Linked DNA regions of Homo sapiens: regions 1, 2 and 4 are each reported to be linked to region 3. The links are microRNA targets in miRTarBase. Many come from high-throughput screens and were not tested one by one. Region 3 holds a microRNA gene; each other region holds the end of a gene's coding sequence. Distances are from middle to middle.

Evidence for each region. Region 3 holds the annotated microRNA hsa-miR-222-3p (AGCUACAUCUGGCUACUGGGU, at 1,534-1,554, shown strand). A microRNA usually pairs through its seed, bases 2 to 8, with sites in the 3' UTR of a target mRNA and lowers its output. Matches are read on the target gene's strand: a 7mer-m8 pairs with bases 2 to 8, a 7mer-A1 pairs with bases 2 to 7 and ends in A, and an 8mer does both.
Region 1: the mRNA of SMC2 is a reported target of hsa-miR-222-3p. Seed matches in the 3' UTR shown: 7mer-m8 at 2,304-2,310.
Region 2: the mRNA of IRS4 is a reported target of hsa-miR-222-3p. The part of its 3' UTR that is shown has no 7-base or 8-base seed match.
Region 4: the mRNA of IPP is a reported target of hsa-miR-222-3p. The part of its 3' UTR that is shown has no 7-base or 8-base seed match.

Annotation. Positions count from the first base shown.
Region 1 is chr9:104,138,773-104,141,957 of GRCh38, reverse strand. It overlaps SMC2 (structural maintenance of chromosomes 2), which reads right to left. Exons shown (of 25, transcript NM_006444.3): 25 at 539-2,819. The coding sequence ends at 2,643. Among named protein-coding and RNA genes, the nearest start is that of SMC2, 46 kb to the right of the region's middle.
Region 2 is chrX:108,720,076-108,723,260 of GRCh38, reverse strand. IRS4 (insulin receptor substrate 4) reads left to right here. Exons shown (of 2, transcript NM_001379150.1): 2 at 738-3,185. The coding sequence ends at 742. Among named protein-coding and RNA genes, the nearest start is that of IRS4-AS1, 15 kb to the left of the region's middle.
Region 3 is chrX:45,745,405-45,748,589 of GRCh38, reverse strand. MIR222 (microRNA 222) reads left to right here and starts at 1,466; the gene lies at 1,466-1,575. It overlaps MIR222HG (miR222/221 cluster host gene), which reads left to right. Exons shown (of 2, transcript NR_170290.1): 2 at 1-3,185. It overlaps MIR221 (microRNA 221), which reads left to right and starts at 2,324; the gene lies at 2,324-2,433.
Region 4 is chr1:45,697,248-45,700,432 of GRCh38, forward strand. It overlaps IPP (intracisternal A particle-promoted polypeptide), which reads right to left. Exons shown (of 9, transcript NM_005897.3): 9 at 1,464-2,943. The coding sequence ends at 2,719. Among named protein-coding and RNA genes, the nearest start is that of TMEM69, 11 kb to the left of the region's middle.

The DNA.
Region 1 (3,185 bases), not on the chromosome of region 3:
AATTACTTTCGCTGACTTCATCTACTAAGTAAGTCTGGGGACCTCTTTCTCCAGGTCCTCGTTTATCCCTTCTGAGACGTCTCCTTCACTTTCTGGAAGCTGTGGTTAGCCCAGATCCCATCTTTTAGTTCTCCAGACCAGAAAGACCCCAGGCTTTCCACTGCAGCCTTAGCTGTCCTACAGCTGCATCATGACTATAGCTGGTACTTAGGTTAAAAACATTAACCTTAGCTTGTGCCTGTCTCTTCCTCCGTATTTTATCTCCCATCCAAAATCTTTCTAGTTTTTCTTCAGTTTCCTGAACTCTCAGGTAGTTGTTTCTAGTATTTTGCTCAGAATCTATATTTATCATCTGTGGGAATGTTGGCCTTTAGATTATGCCACCCTATTGGAAGAGAAAATTTCATGTCTTTGCTTTGCATTTGCTGTGAGCTTACTTGAAATGCCAAAACCGCCACCACCACAATGAATCCTCTCTTCACATGGTTGAGGTTCTTCTTTAAGGTAACATTCACGTTGTACATACTGCTCATACAGGTATTTTTCTTAAATTTATTCTGTACAATAAATACAAATGTTCAAGCTGTCAGTGACGTAGTATATCTTAGGTTCTGGAGACTGACAAGATTTGTCCATGGGCCCTGACACTCCTAACTGTATTATCACCCTGAGCAAGTTTCCTAACTTTTCTGCTCAACTCACTCAATTCCTCGATTACACCATGCTGACAACAACAGTATTTACCTCACTAGGTTACTCTGAGGATTAAATATGACAATACATACAAATGAGAACAGCAGCTAATGTAAAGAAAGAGCTTGTTAAATATTAGTTAACTCATATTACTGCAGATGTGTGAAACAAATGTCCCCAATCCCCTTAATGTCTTCCCTCTAATGAAAAAAAGTTACAACAATTTAATACATGTTTGAGGGTTTTCAAAGATCAAGATTATACAAGACAAAAATCAGGAACGCACACAAGCAAAACATTTTTAGCAGAGAAAAGGAAATGAGTACGTAAGCCAAAATAGTCAAACTCCCAAATTATTTTTAAAACGTTGGCTAAAACAGCAATGAAGTACCACTTAATAACTAACTGTTAAATCAGAAATATTAAAATTAACAGCAAGTACTGACTAATTTGTATACTATGGTATACTTTAATATTGACAGTGTGAATTGGTAACTGTTTTGGCACAGTCTGTAATACATTTGAAAGGAAACAAAAAAACTATATTTGACATTGGACTTTCTGTAACTCAACATTTACAGCATTATTTCCTCTCCCCTCCACAGTGGACAGAACTAATTCCAGATTCAATCCTTTCCAATGTGTCCCATAATATCAATTACTGCATGTTTTCTGACATCTCATATGTATGGAGAATGAAGGGTGGGAAATGTCAAGCCCAGGGCCAGGAAGTACGGCCATATATCAGGGGAAGTATGATAATAACACTAAGGAAATAAGACTAAAAAATCAAGAAGAGATGTGGGGCCAAAATAACACATGGAAGATCAGATTACATCATGTCAGACCTTTCATGATTCAGTTTGGGGTCACTGTTCTAGTGATGACGTACCAAAAACTGTAGACAGTATTCTCATGGTGTTCGCTAGTGTCATCTTTCAAGTTCTAAAGGAATTTCATCCCTTTGAACTGGAAAGCGGAAGACAAATAATCATCCAACTTTTGAGTTATTTTGGTGGAACAGATGGATTGAGTTATTTATATTTATACATATATATATCAGACTCAGGGAAAAATAAATTTGGTTTAGTCTACTGGCACCTACATTCTTGTTTACCAATAGGTTGTTAATGACTGGATTATGAAAAGGCTGACAAAAATCTTGGAAAATATTAACAAACTTCAGATAAATTTGCAGCAGATAGTACCACGCAACACACCTCCTAAGCTTTGATTTAAAAATACTTACACAGCTTAAAAAAACAAAAACATTAAAGTCGTAGAGACCAATTATTAAGCGTATAGGAACATGATATTCATGTATCATTAAAACGTAGAGACCAATTATTAAGCGTATAGGAACATGATATTCATGTATCATTAAAATAAGGATTCTTTCAAGATCTGTTTCCTATCTCAGTCTAAATCAGGGGTCTGGAGTTGTGGCCTTAAAAAACTAGCCTCAAACGGCTCCATGCATGCATAATAGCTTTATATGTGTTCCCTTTGTTGGTCCAGTTACCTGATTTATAATTCTTCCTTACCTGAATGACTTTAGAAAACACATTAATATTGCCTTAGGAATTAAATCAATTAAACACTGATGATCAGCTACATTTATCATGTAATTTAATCTGCTTTTTTGTATATTAGCTTTTACATATAGAATCGGGTATCTCAGGATCCCTAATATATAAAAGACCCGCATAAGAAAAAAACATTTGATGATATGCATAAAATCACAACCACAATAATTGGACCATAATTAGACTAGTTAAGAGATGAGGAATATATGCTCATTTGTAAGCGATAAGTGATTATATAAAGAGAAAACATGGGTTAAGTAACACAGTAACATTAATTTTTGTATATAAACAAATTAGTTATCTCAAGTCCTTAAAAGTTTACATTTAAAAAAACAGGTCAAGATGAAGAAATAACTTTGTAGTTTAAACTTCCACATGTGCTCCTTTGGGTGGTTTTGCCTTGGATTTTGCTTCCTTTGAAATCTTTCCATTTTGACATTGAGTAAATCTGGCTACTGTAGAAACACCATCCACAAACTTGGTTTTGAAAAGAACGTTTGCATTGTTGAACATACCTTCTTTTAGTGACACCACAATGAACTTAAGGAAAAAAGAAAAAAGTATAAAAAAACTTTTTGTGATATACTTGAAGTTTACTCCTTTATACTGGTGATAAGAATGGTTTGGAGATAATTTTATTTCTTTAAATAGTTATATGAGGCACCTAAATGAATGCTAGCTGTCCATATTGTTTTAGAAGTCTCTTAATTTTACTTTGGGTACTTCATTACCCAATTTTACTATTTCCTGGTGGTTGACTGCTTGTTGCTATCTTTTGTAGCTGGCATTCAGTTTTGTTGCTAACTAAAGCTGCTCTAGTGAGATATTTTTCTTGTGACATTTTAATATCAAAGAAGGTTTCAAGTTCCTATAGCACACCACTAGCCCAAACAGAACTTCTGAATA
Region 2 (3,185 bases), 63 Mb from region 3:
TCTTTTAAGATGTCTCAAATAAAATAGAATACTTGGTACTTTGTGGTGACCTGATCTTAAGGTAACACTGGCATCCCATAATCAATTTGCTGATCATTTATTCCTATCCCTTCTCTGGTCCAGCACCTTCTTCTATGTATCTGATCACCCCCTGCCACACTCCCCATTATGCACCCACTCAAAAGCAGAAAGCCAAGAGAATAATGCTGGAACTTTTTTCTTTTATTAAACAGATGGGAATTTCAAGTCTCCTTTGCAGGTATGACTTTGTTCTATTAGAAGAAATTCAATGATTGAGTCTAGAGACCATCACCAATGCTGTACTTAAATCCTATGACTTGTGCCACATAACCTGGTGAAGGCAGAGTCAAACATGTAGAAGAAGAAGAAAAAAATCTGTTTCTCTGCACAATGCCTGGCTCACTCTTGGGCTCCACTGGAAGAAAGTAGAACAGTGCACGCACGTGCAAAGATGCTGTCCACCAGAAATGTCAGTGACAGCCTGGGGGCAAGAAGAATAACTGCCCTTGTGTCTTTGCCCAGCTGATATTCCTCACAGGCAGCCAGCAGAGTTGATTAACCATGTCCATGCCCAGGCAGTCTCCTCTGTATATCTCTCAAAAACTTCTAGTTAGATTTTGTTTTGTTTTGTGTTGTTTTGTTTTAAAACAGGGTGGGGGTGACAGCTCTCCACATTAATTCTGCAAGTAACTTTTGTTTTATTATCTTTTTCCTAGAGTGATTATATTGCCACAAAAACACATTTTAGAAGAAAAGTGATGCTTATGGAATTTTATCTTCGTCTACTCCAGATCTGCCTAAAGGAAAGAAAACTCAGAGGCTTCTGAGTAGAAAGCAACCCAAATTTCTACAAGCCTACAAGTGGACTCTGGCAATTGAATGATCCTATTCATGCAGATCATTCATACTGCTGCTTATGGATCCAGTGATTTCTAATTAACAATATTTACACTGTGCTTTGTTTTTTGTTTTCTGGTTTTCCTCCCCAGTCTGTCCCTTTGAAAGGAAACAGATACTATACAAGTGAGCATCTCATAACTCTTTCCCTCTTTAAAAAAAAGTAACTTAGAATACATATAAATTTGGTCAATGCCAATTTTAATAATGTAAAATATTTAGATTCAATTTTGAAGTTGAAAAACTTTAAACCAGGGCACATAAAGAAAAAACAGCTGTCATAATTGGAAGGAAGGTATGATCTGGAATCTTTTTTCCGAGTATTACACACACAAAACATTTCTTGATCAATGAATTAAATGTCAACTGAACTGATATCTTGATGGGGCATTACCAGTATTTTAAAGGCAGGACTAAAGGGCAGATTATTTCAAGTTTTGCTCATTAGCAAAACTGCAACATTCTGCTCATGTTATATGTCAATGAAACTAATATCTTGATTGAGCATTTCCAACATTTTAAAGGCAGAACTGAGAAACAGCTATTTGTTCACATACAACACTGTGATGTTCTGCCTGAAAATCGATTGAGTATTTCCAAACCTATTATTTTTCATTTATTGTGAAACCTACATTTACCTCCTAAAAGAAACAAAGCTCTTCAAAAGTCTCTTCCCAAGGCCCCTCCCTGCTTCTCTGGGCCTCTCCCCACTTTCAACCTCTATTCTACTTTTTCTTATTCTTTCTCCATTTTCCCCAATGCACACTCTTCCTCTTATGCCCATGGCTACTATAAAGAGATCAATTTCCCATATTCAAGAAATTAGTGTTTACTTATCAATCAATATTCTGACAAAAACTTAAGCCAAAAAGAACCTCTTATAAGGCCTTGTTTCCTTCTGGATATTGAGCCAATATAAGATGTACCAAATTAAAAAAAAAAATCAGAGCAAGCTCCCCCCCGTTCTATTTTTGCTTGCCTCTGATGTAAACTGAATTAAGATTTTAGGTACCTGGACCTTTGAGAACGTGACACTAGCAAGGTGGTGACCACAGAGAATAGGTACAAAGGTCTTGAAGCTTGCTTAGAGCTTTGTTCCGTGGTGGCACACAAATCTTGGCTTGCTGTACCATCATTGGCAAACCTCATCATATCACAGTTGGGTGTGTTTGTATGTGTGTGAGCACTAGTGTGTGTGTGTACATATTCGTGTGTATGCACACTTTGTGTACCTGTGTACATGTGATTGTAGATGTACCTGTTGTGTGTAAACTCTGTTAAAATGAAATTTGCTTCGCATTTAATGTGCAACTTTGAAGTAGTGTAATATTTATCTAAAGGTTTTCACTACTTGGTTTTAATGTCTTTGAACGTGTACTTCTATCTTCAAGCAAGCTTATAGTACGTGTTGCTAAACTAACTTTTCCAAAGAACCGAGTTGACTTCTATTTTTCCTTGCCTACCAACCAAAGGGATGGTGGGCTCTTTTTTCCCTCTTGTAAATTGTGCTGAGGAGAGGACGTGGCTATGAGATCAGTCATTGTTCCAGTTACTGGTCACTGCTAGGGCATCAACTTTATCAGTTCCTTCAGACTCTTCTCTTTTTCCAACCTAATCAAATAACGCAGTGTGGCTTTTGTTCATTATAACAACGCGCTCTTTAGGCAACTTTTTTTCAAGCCTTCTGTCACCATTTTATTTTTTCAAGTAAGTTAAGTAATAATTGTTCAGAATTGTGGGAAAAAAGATTACTTGGGGGAAAATACTGTATCACTTTATTTGCATATTAGGTTCAGAAGCTGCCAGCAGACAGGGTACAGAGGGTACAGCACAGATGTAACAGTTGCTGAATAAATGAATGAGAAACCTCATACACAGTAGTACGTATTATACAAATAGTAACAGGTACACATAGTCACAGGTACTGCATAACAAATGCAATCTTGTTCTCATTATTTATTAGTTTACAGACAATTAATTTATTCAGTATTGTGCTGGAAGAATCTTTGTGGAATATGTTTACCAACTTATCACTTACCTTCCAGCTATCAGTTCATGCTGCTAAGAAAAAACAATGATGGAATATTTTTGTGTGTGTGACCTCTACATTTAATTTGATATCAGGCATAGTCACTTGGTCGTTAAAAACTGAAACTTTACAGTTCCACCAGCTAATTACATCTGCTATTTCTGCTTCACAGATATGCTTTGAGTTGCTTTGGCTTTGTCTTCCTTTGTAAATACTCTTGTACTTTCTTTTCCTTGTA
Region 3 (3,185 bases):
TGGCAAGTGAGTTGCCTCTTAAAATTAGACATCTGTGATTAAATAGTTAAATCATTCCCTAGATATGTATATATTTAGAGCTCCCAGAAAGCTGGTTATCTTTTCTTATAGCTAACACATTTTTAAAAAGCCACTTTTCTCTTGGTGATAAATATGTGTGTGTCATACTGTGGTATAGCTGCATGTCCGATCAAATGGTACTAGTTTCCAATTGACAGTAGCTTTATTAAATCTTTTCTAAGTGATAGCTGAAGCATTTTAAATTCACAGCAAAGGATTCTAAGACGTGTACTTGGAGAAAAGTTGCATAGTCATTTACCTTCTAGAATAATCCTAAAAGTAGGAAACAATAATTGGCCATGTGGTCATGTGCTAATAAAAGAACACCTTGTCCAAGATACCAGGCTTTTTCCTGTTTCAGTGCTTTTTGTTCTGACTCTTGCCTCTCCCTGTGGTGTCCTTTCCCACCCCAGGTATGTACATGATTCTTCTCCTCCTACTTCAGGAATCCACTCAAATGCCAGGCCCTCAGTGAGGCTTTTCCTAGCCACCTTATCGAAAATAGCATTCCTCTTAACTGTTTCATTACTCTATGAAATGACCGTCCATATCTATGGAGGTTTTTTTCAGTCTTTTTCTACCCTTTCCTTAAATCTTAGACTTAAACTTCCGTGAGTGCAAGGATTTTGTTCAGTGTTGCATTCCCAGTGCCTGGAATAAAGCACGCAGAAGTATTTCAGTAAGGTACTGAAAGGTACTTATTGAAGGTACTCAGTAAGTATTTCTGGGGTGGATAAATGAATAGCAAAGAGAACACCAATCCTGTGACTTATTTTGTTACCTTCATTGTATCATGGGAGGAAAGCTTGGAACTGACATGCTAGTGAGCACCTGCTTTGAATATTTATTATAATATGCATTTTCTGTAATTTTCTTTGGTGTTTGAGATATTTGGTAAAATAACTGTATTATCCTCAGTTCGTAACACGAAAGAATTTTTTAACTGCAATTTACTTTACATATGTGCATCATTGCTAGATTACCCAAGTTAAAGTGACAGGAAGCAACAAAAATGCTCCAAGCCACAATAAAATGGTAGATTGGTTTTTTGTTTGCTTGTTTGTTTTTCTCTTGTGTATATTTCCATTTTACTGCAAAACATACCAAATAATTGATTGTAGATTTTGTCACAAGGAATCATGTATGCTGTAGAAGTATAGAGATTTTCCACTTTTTTTGTTTGCTGCTGGATCTCCAGCACCTAAGAAAATATGTGGCACTTTATTTAATGTCACTCAGTCAGTATCTGTTGGATAAGTAAATAAATCCAGAGGTTGTTTAAAATTACGTACATGGGAATATTGTCAAAATGTCAATTCATGATCCAAAGAAAATGTGCAATTGAAATCTGATATCTTCTTTTTTCTTCCACAGAGCCCCTCCCCAGAAGGCAAAGGATCACCCAGCTGCTGGAAGGTGTAGGTACCCTCAATGGCTCAGTAGCCAGTGTAGATCCTGTCTTTCGTAATCAGCAGCTACATCTGGCTACTGGGTCTCTGATGGCATCTTCTAGCTTCTGCTTCAGTGTCCTGAGAGAGATTATTGGGCAGTCTTTAATAATGAAAACTTTACCTTGAATTACACACACACACACACACACACACACACACACACACACACACTCACACACACACTCACACACACACAAAGAGAGAGAGAGAGAGAGAGAGAGAGAGACAGAGAGAGAGGAGAGAGTCAAGTTCTAGGGTGTTAAGTCCAACATTATCAGCTGGGGCTTGGGAACCTTCAAGGTTTTATGAATGATGAGGTCTATTTGCTTTCAATACTACAAGGGGGAGGAATCTGGATATTTATCCATGTTTTAGCTCTTACCTGTTTTTGTTTTACCTCTTTTTTTCTCTTTCCCCCCTATGAAAGGTATCATTTGGATAGATCAATCTATTCATCTATCTACCTACCTACCTATCTACCCCTACCCATCCACCCATTTATCCATCCACCCATCCATCCATCCATCCACCCACCTGCCCACGTACCTACCAGTTTATCTATCCGACCTTCCTTCCATCCAGCTTTTTCATCTCTTGACTTTTAGATGGCATTTTCAACATGATGTCATGATTAAATGATGACAACTTGATGATATGATGGTTTAAGGAAATTTTGTTGGTAGTAGGTAAGTCCCAGCATTTCTGACTGTTGGTTTTCTTTTCCTTGTGGTAGAAAAGACAAATGCCAATTTTGAAATCTTGAATGCAGTAGGCAGTTGTGTTGAAATAGTATGTGAGAATTACTTGCAAGCTGAACATCCAGGTCTGGGGCATGAACCTGGCATACAATGTAGATTTCTGTGTTCGTTAGGCAACAGCTACATTGTCTGCTGGGTTTCAGGCTACCTGGAAACATGTTCTCCATTGGCTGTCTCACCAATGCTACCCCTATAATGTTTCTGAATAACTGTTTTCCAGGAGGTATAAACCAGTGGAGTTTATCATTGAATAGAGTGCAGAGAAAGGACCGCAAGAAAGCTGATCACCTCAGCAATGAATGATTTCAATACGATTTCACCCAAATGGTCTCACACACCAGCCTAGTAAACCAGAGATAAGGTGTAATGTCATCCTTCCTTCCTTCTCCCTGCCTCAACTGTCAAAGATTGACAACTTACATGTTGTTTACTTTTTGGCTTCTATTTCTGTTCATAATTATTATCAGAAGGCATAGCACCCACAAGCCTAATCATACTGCCTTACAACCTTATTCCTCTTCATTTTGTCTTCTCACTTACCTGCAGAAACCCAGTTTATTTTTGTTCTCCCTTTACCACACCAGCCTTGTAACTGTTATGAATGACCCTCAATCTCACTGGAATCTGAATCACTCAGGAATTCAAGCAAACTGGATGTTTTAACCACTGTTCAGCTTTCTTATGGAATGACAGAGAACTTGTAAAGATAAAACACCAGTTTGCAGGAAGAAAGGAAGAGAATGGAAATTGCTTCTGGAAAATACTAGTTTTACAATATGTTTTGTTTGTCTGCTCTCTTAAATAAACTTAATCCTATAAACATTTTTTAAGAACTAGCCATTAAGACTGTTAAGTTCTCAATTATAAAGGAATAAAATGTTTTAAGGAGGATTTATTTGCCCTTGCTTATATGAAC
Region 4 (3,185 bases), not on the chromosome of region 3:
TTTTTTGTTTTATTTTTTTTTGAGACAAAGTCTTGCTCTATGGCCCAGGCTAGAACACAGTGGTATGATCTCAGCTCACTACAACCTCCACCTCCTGGATTCAAGTGATTCTCCTGCCTCAGCCTCCTCAGCAGCTGGGATTACAGGCATGTACCACCACCTGCTGCCAATTTTTTGTATTTTTAGTAGAGACGGGGTTTCACCATGTTGGCAAGACTGGTCTTGAACTCCTGACCTCAAGTGATCTGCCCACCTCAGTCTCCCAAAGTGCTAGGATTACAGGCATAAGCCACGGTGCCCGGCCTAAACCAAATAATTTGGATATGAGTGCTACCTAATTCATTAATGCAATTAAAAGTTTTCTATCTAAATAAGTTGATGATGCTTATAGTAATATACTGAAGGACCTTAGCAAAGAAATGGGAAATCGGCAGAGTGCGGTGGCTCACACCTATAGTCCCAGCACTTTGGGAGGCCAAGGTGGGCAGATCACAAGGTCAGGAGTTCAACACCAGCCTGGCCAACATGGTGAAACTCCGTCTCTACTAAAGATACAAAAAATTAGCCAGGCATGGTGGCTCACGTCTGTAATCCCAGTTACTCGGGAGGCTGAGGCGGGAGAATCGTTTGAACCAGGGAGGCAGAGGTTGCAGTGAGCTGAGATCACACCATTGCACTCCAGCCTGAGTGACAGGGCAAGACTCCATCTAAAAAAAAAAAAAAGAAACGGGAAATCAAATCCTTAAGTCAACTAGTTAAATTTTACTGTATGCAGCCGGGCACGCTGGCCCATGCCTGTAATCCCAGCACTTCAGGAGGCCAAGGCAGGTGGATCACCTGAGGTCAGGAGTTCGAGACCAGCCTGGCCAACATGGTGAAACCCCATACAGAAAAATTAGCTAGGCATGGTGGTGGGCGCCTGTAATCCCAGCTACTTGGGAGGCTGAGGCAGGAGAATCGCTTGAATCCGGGAGGCGGAGGTTGCAGTGAGCCGAGATCACGCCTTTGCACTCCAGCCTGGGCAACAAGAGCAAAATTCCATCTCAAAAAAAAATTTTTTTTACTGTATGCAAGACCTTTAATATATATTGCTCCAACTGGCCAGTAGAAATAACTTAAAAGTAACCGCATCATACACCCAGTAAATCTTTCTCTTAGAAATGAACAGAGAACAATTCTTTAGAATGCTTCTCAGGGAGAAAATGAGAAGTTTTGAGAAGCAGTTTTGTTTGGGTCAAGGGGTACTTTCAAATTACACTTATGAGTCAGTATCTATAAAAAGTTTCAGAAGTACCTACAATTTAGCCCTCTACATCCAAGCAGTAGCTTTGCAGTATGCTCTTACTTAGGTTTGCCCAAGTACAAATAAATTTTACAAAGCTTGATAATCTAATAAAATTCCCTCTTCCTAAAGCCAAACAGATAATTTTGGTGACAACAATCTAGCAAAAAAGGAAGAATTTTTTTTTCTTTTTTTTTTTTTTTTTTTGAGACAGGTTCTCATGCTGTCACCCAGGCCGGTGTGCAGTGGCACAATCTTGGCTCACTGCAGCCTTGACCTCCTGGGCTCAAGTGATCCTGCAACCTCAGCCTCCCAAGCAGATGGGACCACAGGTACAAGCCACAACGCCCGGCTAATTTTTATATATTTTTTGGTAGAGACGGAGTCTCATCACGTTGCCCAGGCTAGTCTCGAACTCCTGAGTTCAAGCCATCTTCCCGTCTCACCTCGGCCTCTCAAAGTGCTGGGATTACAGGTGTGAGCCACCATGCCCAGCCTAAAAAAGGGAGAAATTTCTAGGTGCATACTGCCTGCTGGACTGTATAGCCCATTACAACATCTGGTCACTAAGAACCTCCTATTAATTCCTTACTTGCATTCTCAGGATCAAGACAAAAAATATGAGCAAGCAAAAACTTATCATCAAGCAAAAAGGTATCTATCTATTAAAATAGCTAGATATTTCCCAAACACCCCTCCTAGGATATCTGCTGCCAATAAAAAGTTTGGGGCTAGTGAAAACTCTTGGCATTAAATAAAAGTAGGAATCTATTTCATTGGCTTTCTCTGTGGCTCAAACTATGGCCATGGAAAATTATGCTCTGGATATAATTGTGAATATAGAGGTCTTTAAACTGTGTCATTGACACTATTCCTATATCACATAAAGTTTTATGTTACAATTTATACTGCACTGGAGAAGTAGCTAAAGGGACTATTTGCCAGGAAGCTTCTAGTAAATAATTTCTACAAATTTGTAAAATAGGAGTTGTCTACACTTAAACTGGAGAATTCTACAGCATAAATGGCATTTCTATTATTAGTAAACCTGGCAAATCTGTGTGAGCTCTTTATTAATTGGGATATATTCCATATCCATTCTCACTCATATTTTTAGAAAAATCATTCTTGAGTTTATTTTTTTTCTTTAAGAGACAGGATCTCATTCTGTTGCCCAGAGTGGAGTGCAGTGGCATGATCGTAGCTTACTACAACCTCAAATTCCTGGGCTCAAGTGATCCTTCTGCCTCAGCCTTCCAAAGTGCTGGGATTATAGGCATGAGGCCACTGCGCCCAGCCTCGTTAGTCATTTATCTACCAAATACATGGAAAACTCACAGAATCAGAGGGTCTTATCACCAAATCTATGTTTGCTTTGCAAAAGGTCAGGTCCTGCATTTTCAAAATGTTCCTTGTGCTCTGTTATGCTTTATATTTCATAGCACAGCAACGCCCCCTTCACAACGACTGGTGATCATGTTACCAATTTCTGTCCATGTATCTGAATGAGGGTTATAAACTTCAACTGAGTCCAAGGTACCTGGAGCCAAAAAATCATGGCTGGAAGATCGACCTCCAGAAACATACAGAAGACCATTGACTGCCACAACACACATGCCTGCTCTAGGCACTTTCATTGAGGCAACTTCAACCCACTTTTCCTGGTTAAGAGAGAAAAAAAAAATATGTTAGCAGTGTTATGAAATGATAGTAAAGAAATCCACTGAGAAATTCGATATCCCAGTTCTTTTTACATGTTTAAATGTAAAACTATCTAGTCAGGTAAGCATACAGATTTTTTTTTCTTTTTTTTGCTTTGTTTTTTCCTTGGAGACAGGGTCTCGCTCTGTCACCCAGGCTGGAATGCACAGCAACGATCTCGGCTCAGCGCAGCCTCAACCTC